2 separate regions of the Homo sapiens genome follow, and region 2 is linked to region 1. A link means that fine-mapping ties the variant in region 1 to the plasma level of a protein whose gene starts in the linked region. Region 1 holds a variant in brackets. A gene starts in the other region. All regions are shown on their forward strands.

Region 1 (2,898 bases):
CCAGTGCCAGAGAGCCAGAGCCTGAGGATCCCTTGTTCTTGAGACAGAGGCGTTGCGCATGAGGTAGCAGGAAGAGCTGGGTCAGGCAGAGGTGGCTGGGCCGCGCAGTCAGACCTGGGAGAGTGCAGGGAAGGAGAATGTTGCCCCTCTTTATCCTAACACACCCCATCCTCTCCCCACGTGGCTGGACCTCAGCATCCAGAATTACACCCCCAAGGTGGGCGAGTATGCCACATACGAGGCCATTCGCAAGGCGTTCCGCGTGTGGGAGAGTGCCACACCACTGCGCTTCCGCGAGGTGCCCTATGCCTACATCCGTGAGGGCCATGAGAAGCAGGCCGACATCATGATCTTCTTTGCCGAGGGCTTCCATGGCGACAGCACGCCCTTCGATGGTGAGGGCGGCTTCCTGGCCCATGCCTACTTCCCAGGCCCCAACATTGGAGGAGACACCCACTTTGACTCTGCCGAGCCTTGGACTGTCAGGAATGAGGATCTGAATGGTGAGCCAAGTATCCCTGGGACTTACTCTGGAAAAAGCCAACAGTCATTTGTAGGGGTGGTTCCCCTCCCTCCTTCCAAAATCTCCGGGCTAGAAGGGACCACAGAGACCTTCTGATCTAACTTCTGACAAAAGCAGGAGTCCTGTTTGAGCTATTTACATCTGGTCCCCCCTCTCACCCACTGACTGGCTTTCCAGTCAAAGACTTCAAAGCATCCTTATTGCCCACTTTTCCAGACCGATGTCATGTCTCGCTCCCGGGAGAAACTGGGGACTAGAGAGAGCCTTGGCTTCCCTTACCACAGGTCTTCCCGGGATCGGGGTCCTGCTTCCAAGCACTCTCTCACCTCCACCCAGAGGAGCTTGCTGACTGGCTTTGTGCTTAAATACCAGATAAAAAGCTAGACCTCAGAATTTGGCCACTTTGGATTGAAAACATGGGCAGCAGGCTTGGAGGTGAAACCAAAGCTGCTGGTGGGGAAGCAGGGAGGCTGAGGGAAGGGACTCAGGCTGCTATCGTCACTGTCCCCATCCTTCCAGGAAATGACATCTTCCTGGTGGCTGTGCACGAGCTGGGCCATGCCCTGGGGCTCGAGCATTCCAGTGACCCCTCGGCCATCATGGCACCCTTTTACCAGTGGATGGACACGGAGAATTTTGTGCTGCCC[G/A]ATGATGACCGCCGGGGCATCCAGCAACTTTATGGCGAGTAGTCTACACCCACGCCTGCTCCCTCCTCTGCTGCTTGTTCCCTCCTGGTCTACGCATTTCCCCTCTTTTATGCCTTGCAGTCTCCGCACCGCCCCCTGCCAACCTGCCCCTGCCTCTATCAGCTCCACTTTTGAGCCCATCTTTTGTGTCGCCTCCCAGTTGGTTGCTTCAGCCTCCCCTAGAAGCCCATCCACACCTTTCCAAGGGTATTGTCTGCCCATCTGTCTGTCCTTCCGTCCCCGCCTCCTCCTAAGTCTGAAATGCCCCTCGTGTTTTCTGCCCCAGGGGGTGAGTCAGGGTTCCCCACCAAGATGCCCCCTCAACCCAGGACTACCTCCCGGCCTTCTGTTCCTGATAAACCCAAAAACCCCACCTATGGGCCCAACATCTGTGACGGGAACTTTGACACCGTGGCCATGCTCCGAGGGGAGATGTTTGTCTTCAAGGTGAGAAGAAGTGGGCTGGTTTGAAAGACAAAAGGGCCCTATGGGCTGGGCATGGTGGCTCATGCCTGTAATCCTAGCACTTTGAGAGGCCAAGGCAGGTGGATCACCTGAGGTCTGGAGTTCGAGAGCAGGCTGGCCAACATAGTGAAACCCCGTCTCTACTAAAAATACAAAAAATTAGCCAAGTGTGGTGGTGGGCGCCTATGATCCCAGCTACCTGGGAGGCTGAGGCAGGAGAATCACGTGAACCTGGGAGGTGGAGGTTGCAGTGAGCCGAGATAGGGCCATTGCACTCCAGCCTGGACAACAGTGTGAGACTCCATCTCAAAAAAAAAAAAGGCGGGGGGGTACTCTGTGGTAGGGCGGCTGGGTGGAAGTGACAACAGCTGGACTAAAAACTAAAACTGAGGAACAAACAGCAGTGCGGGAGCTTTGGGGACTGAACCAGAGACCTAGGCCGCAAGACATAATGGACTTTTCCTGCATTGACCGGCTTCCAGGAGCGCTGGTTCTGGCGGGTGAGGAATAACCAAGTGATGGATGGATACCCAATGCCCATTGGCCAGTTCTGGCGGGGCCTGCCTGCGTCCATCAACACTGCCTACGAGAGGAAGGATGGCAAATTCGTCTTCTTCAAAGGTAACCAGGCACTCCACTTTAGTCTTTGGGAGTGAGGCGGGTCTCCCTAGAGGAGCTGATTTCCTCTAAAGTCCCTAGAGCCTAAGTTGAACCCAGACGTTGCCCTCCTGTCCTCCCCAGGAGACAAGCATTGGGTGTTTGATGAGGCGTCCCTGGAACCTGGCTACCCCAAGCACATTAAGGAGCTGGGCCGAGGGCTGCCTACCGACAAGATTGATGCTGCTCTCTTCTGGATGCCCAATGGAAAGACCTACTTCTTCCGTGGAAACAAGTAAGACCTCAACCCCTTAACCCCAGGCCTCCCTCAGAAACCACCACCACCCCAAATTCCCTCAGTTCTGGAGAAAGACCCACTTTACCCCCAACATGCTTCCCTGGAGAAGGAGCTGGCTGAGCCTCTGCTGTTGCCTAGAAATGGGCAGCCTCCTTTGGGCACCGTGTGAGTGGGATGTGACCGGGTCATTCCAGACCTGGTCATTTGGCGCCTCCTGCCCCCAGCACTGCGCCTCCACCCCAGCAGCCAGGCACTGTCATTAGGGCTACTGGTGGCTCCTTGCAGCCTGGGCCCTCCCTTCCACCCCCACCTTCCGCCGCTTTCAGCAG
Region 2 (2,898 bases), not on the chromosome of region 1:
TCCTGGAGGTGGTCAGGGACAAGACAGCTGGGCCTCTCTGCTGTCATCCCTAGGAGCAGTCAGCAATTACACAGACACAGCTGCTGTGTGATTCAAAGACACATATGCACGTAGACTCAAATACAGAGTTGCTTGAATGTGTTCACAAATATACACACCCGGCCGGGCGCGGTGGCTCACGTTTGTAATCCCAGCCCTTTTGGAGGCCAAGGCGGGTGGATCACAAGGTCAAGAGATCGAGACCATCCTGGCCAAAATAGTGGTGCGCACCTGTAATCCCAGCTACTCTGGAGGCTGAGGCAGGAGAATCGCTTGAACTCAGGAGGCGGAGGTTGCAGTGAGCCGAGATTGAGCCACTGCACTCCAGAGCCAGACTCTGTCTCAAAAAAAAAAAAAAGACAAAAACCCCCCACAAATATACACACCCATGCACCACCACCCCTACCCATACACCACACGCACACTTAAATTCAGAGGGCAAATCCCGGTTCCTCCCTTCATAGCTATGTGTCCCCAAGTTACTTAATCTCTTTGTATCTTAATTTCCTTATTTCCGATCTGTAAAAATGAGAATAATGGTATTCACCTCAATGAGTTGTTGTGAAGATTAAATGAGATAAAATGGTAAAGAGCTTACAACAGTGGCAACACATGCAGAGAGACGCACATGTTTTCATACTCATTTCCCAAGCCCTGCCCAGTACTGCCACTGGCACTGGTGGTGAGCCTGGCAGCAGTACAAGGTTGGAGTCCCTTCATCCCTTTGAGCCTTGGTTTTCTCATCTGTGAAATGGGAATAATAATATCTAGCCGGCGGGGCTGTTTGGAGGAACTAAAGAGGCCCAGCATGGAAAGCTCCTAACCTAACTCTGGCCCACAAAAGTCTCCCTACGTTTTAGCTGTCACTGTCCCTGTGAGGAAGAACAGATCCAAGAACAGGTGCAGGGATGGGCTGCACCACAGCAAAATCTGGACAGGCCCGACCCCCATCTCCTCCCAGGCTGGAGCGGGGCCCTGTAAGGACAGAGCCCAAGGCCACTAGGTGTCAGGCCTGTTGGAGCCAAGTCCGGCCAGCAGTCTGGGGTGGGGCTGGGGGCAGGGCTGGTCGGATGGCCGTGGGTGGAAGGAAAAGAGGAAAACCAGCTCAGTGGAAATTGTCCTGCGGTTGGCTCAGGCGCCCACGACACTGTATTTATAGAGAGCTCCTTGCAGCTCTTAATTCCTCGCAGTCGAGTTAACCCTTTCTGGGCTGTGGTGCCAGCATGGTGTGGAGGAAGAACCCAAGACTGGGGTTGGACAGCAGGATTCCAGCCCTGTTCTGCCGCCAGTCGATGACCAGTCAGTCACCTATCCCCTCTCGCAGAAAGGAAGATTCGGCTCTTGGAAGTGTGGGAACGGGGTGGGGGATGGGCAGCGCCCTGCTCCGGGAGCCGAGGGTTTTCCCCGCCAGGGTCAGGCCTGGGGGCGGGGCGGGGCGGGGGCGGGGGCCAGGCCGTGTGCTCTGCCCAGCGGGCTGGCTCAGGCCTCGGTCAGCAGCCGCCACCGCGGGGCCAATCCGGCCTCAGGGACGCACCGGAGCCGCCTTTCCGGGCCTCAGGCGGATTCTCCGGCGCGGCCCGCCCCGCCCCTCGGACTCCCCGGGCCGCCCCCGGCCCCCATTCGGGCCGGGCCTCGCTGCGGCGGCGACTGAGCCAGGCTGGGCCGCGTCCCTGAGTCCCAGAGTCGGCGCGGCGCGGTGAGTGCTGGCGTGGCGCGGGCGGCGCGGGGTGGGGCGGCCTTTGTCTGCTGCGGGCCGGGCCTGGATCCCGCGGAGGTCCGCACGTTCCCGCTCAGGGCTGCAGGAGCTGAGCAGGGCGCCTTCCCTCCGGGCTCCTGCTCCCCTGCCCTCCCCCAGGTCCGGGCGGCCCCCCTCGCACAGGAGTCCCGGGAACCGCGGGCGCCCCTCCTGCCCTGGGCTGTGGGGCCCGCGGAGAGCTGGGGGCTCCCGGATCCTACCCCGCCCCCCTTTCCTCGGGTTGAGAGGGGCCCGGGCGCCGTCGGACCTGCAGACCCCGGAAGCTGCGGACCGGGCCGGGTGGGTGAATGCGCTTTTGCAGGCCCCGGGTCTGGAGCGGGCATGGGGGCAGATCTGTCCCGTGTTGAAGCTTAACGAAGCCACCGGCCGGCGCTGGGAGGTTAGCGGGGTCTCGGGTCCTGCAGAGGAAAACGCCCAGCTCCGGGAGGGGAGCGGCGGGGAGGGAAGGCGAGTGGTTAGGCGTGTCCACTCTGCAGGGCCCAGCAGGGCGAAGGTGTGGGCGACTGGTGCACTTCCACAGGCAGCCGTGGGCAGCATGAGGGGTCAGATTCCGGGAAGGACAGGTAGAGACGGCTGGCAGGGGCCACGGGGTGAATAGGTGTTGGGGGTGGGGAGGGAATTGGGATGGGCAGTTTGGGCTTGGGAAGCCTCAGGGAGGTGGGGGGTGAGGTGGGATGGAGAGGAGATGCGGGCGACGGTGGAGGGAGGTGGGGACCCCGAGTGGGGGCACACTAGAAGGGAGGGGATTGAATTCCAGCGCCCAGGGCCCTCCCTGCGACCGTTTAGCTAGCGAATTGGCAGGTTTGGCAGCCTAAGGCAGGGGATTTATTTCTAAGCCAAACCTGCTCTAATGAGAAAAGCGTGATAGATGACTCAGATATGGGATCTATCACTGAGGGAAAACATTAAGCAAATAGTAAAGCAAAAAAGATTTGTGTGTGTGTGTGTGTGTGTGTGTGTGTGTGTGTGTGTGTGGCGGGTGGGGGGGTGTTAGTTGTCTTAATTTAGAAAAACGATTTACCTTCAAATTGGATGTGGATAATTGTAAATGAGTCTGATCTCTTCATTAAAGCCCGGGGTCCTTTTCTTATAAGCATGTCTTC

Direction of the effects. Positions count from the first base shown, and alleles are read on the strand shown. Strength reflects both the effect of a copy and how common the allele is.
For the plasma level of the protein whose gene starts at base 1,658 in region 2, allele G in region 1 goes with a lower level than allele A (weak association).

The links. PIP is the posterior inclusion probability: the model's chance that the variant is causal. Protein levels are from antibody-based Olink assays in UK Biobank. Linkage for the fine-mapping came from a reference panel and not from the study's own genotypes, which makes the PIPs less certain.
Region 2: it holds the start of CD276, and the variant in region 1 is fine-mapped to the plasma level of the CD276 protein (UK Biobank, PIP above 0.99).

The regions. Positions count from the first base shown.
Region 1 is chr14:22,842,215-22,845,112 of GRCh38, forward strand. MMP14 (matrix metallopeptidase 14) reads left to right here. Exons shown (of 10, transcript NM_004995.4): 4 at 196-503; 5 at 1,043-1,204; 6 at 1,496-1,656; 7 at 2,157-2,295; 8 at 2,416-2,566. Among named protein-coding and RNA genes, the nearest start is that of MMP14, 7.1 kb to the left of the region's middle. RefSeq lists enhancers at 777-1,277, 1,278-1,778. The variant G/A (reference allele first, on the strand shown) is at 1,171.
Region 2 is chr15:73,682,726-73,685,623 of GRCh38, forward strand. It overlaps CD276 (CD276 molecule), which reads left to right and starts at 1,658. Exons shown (of 10, transcript NM_001024736.2): 1 at 1,658-1,735. RefSeq lists enhancers at 547-1,055, 2,073-2,579 and silencers at 1,439-1,488, 1,609-1,738, 1,749-1,878, 2,039-2,088.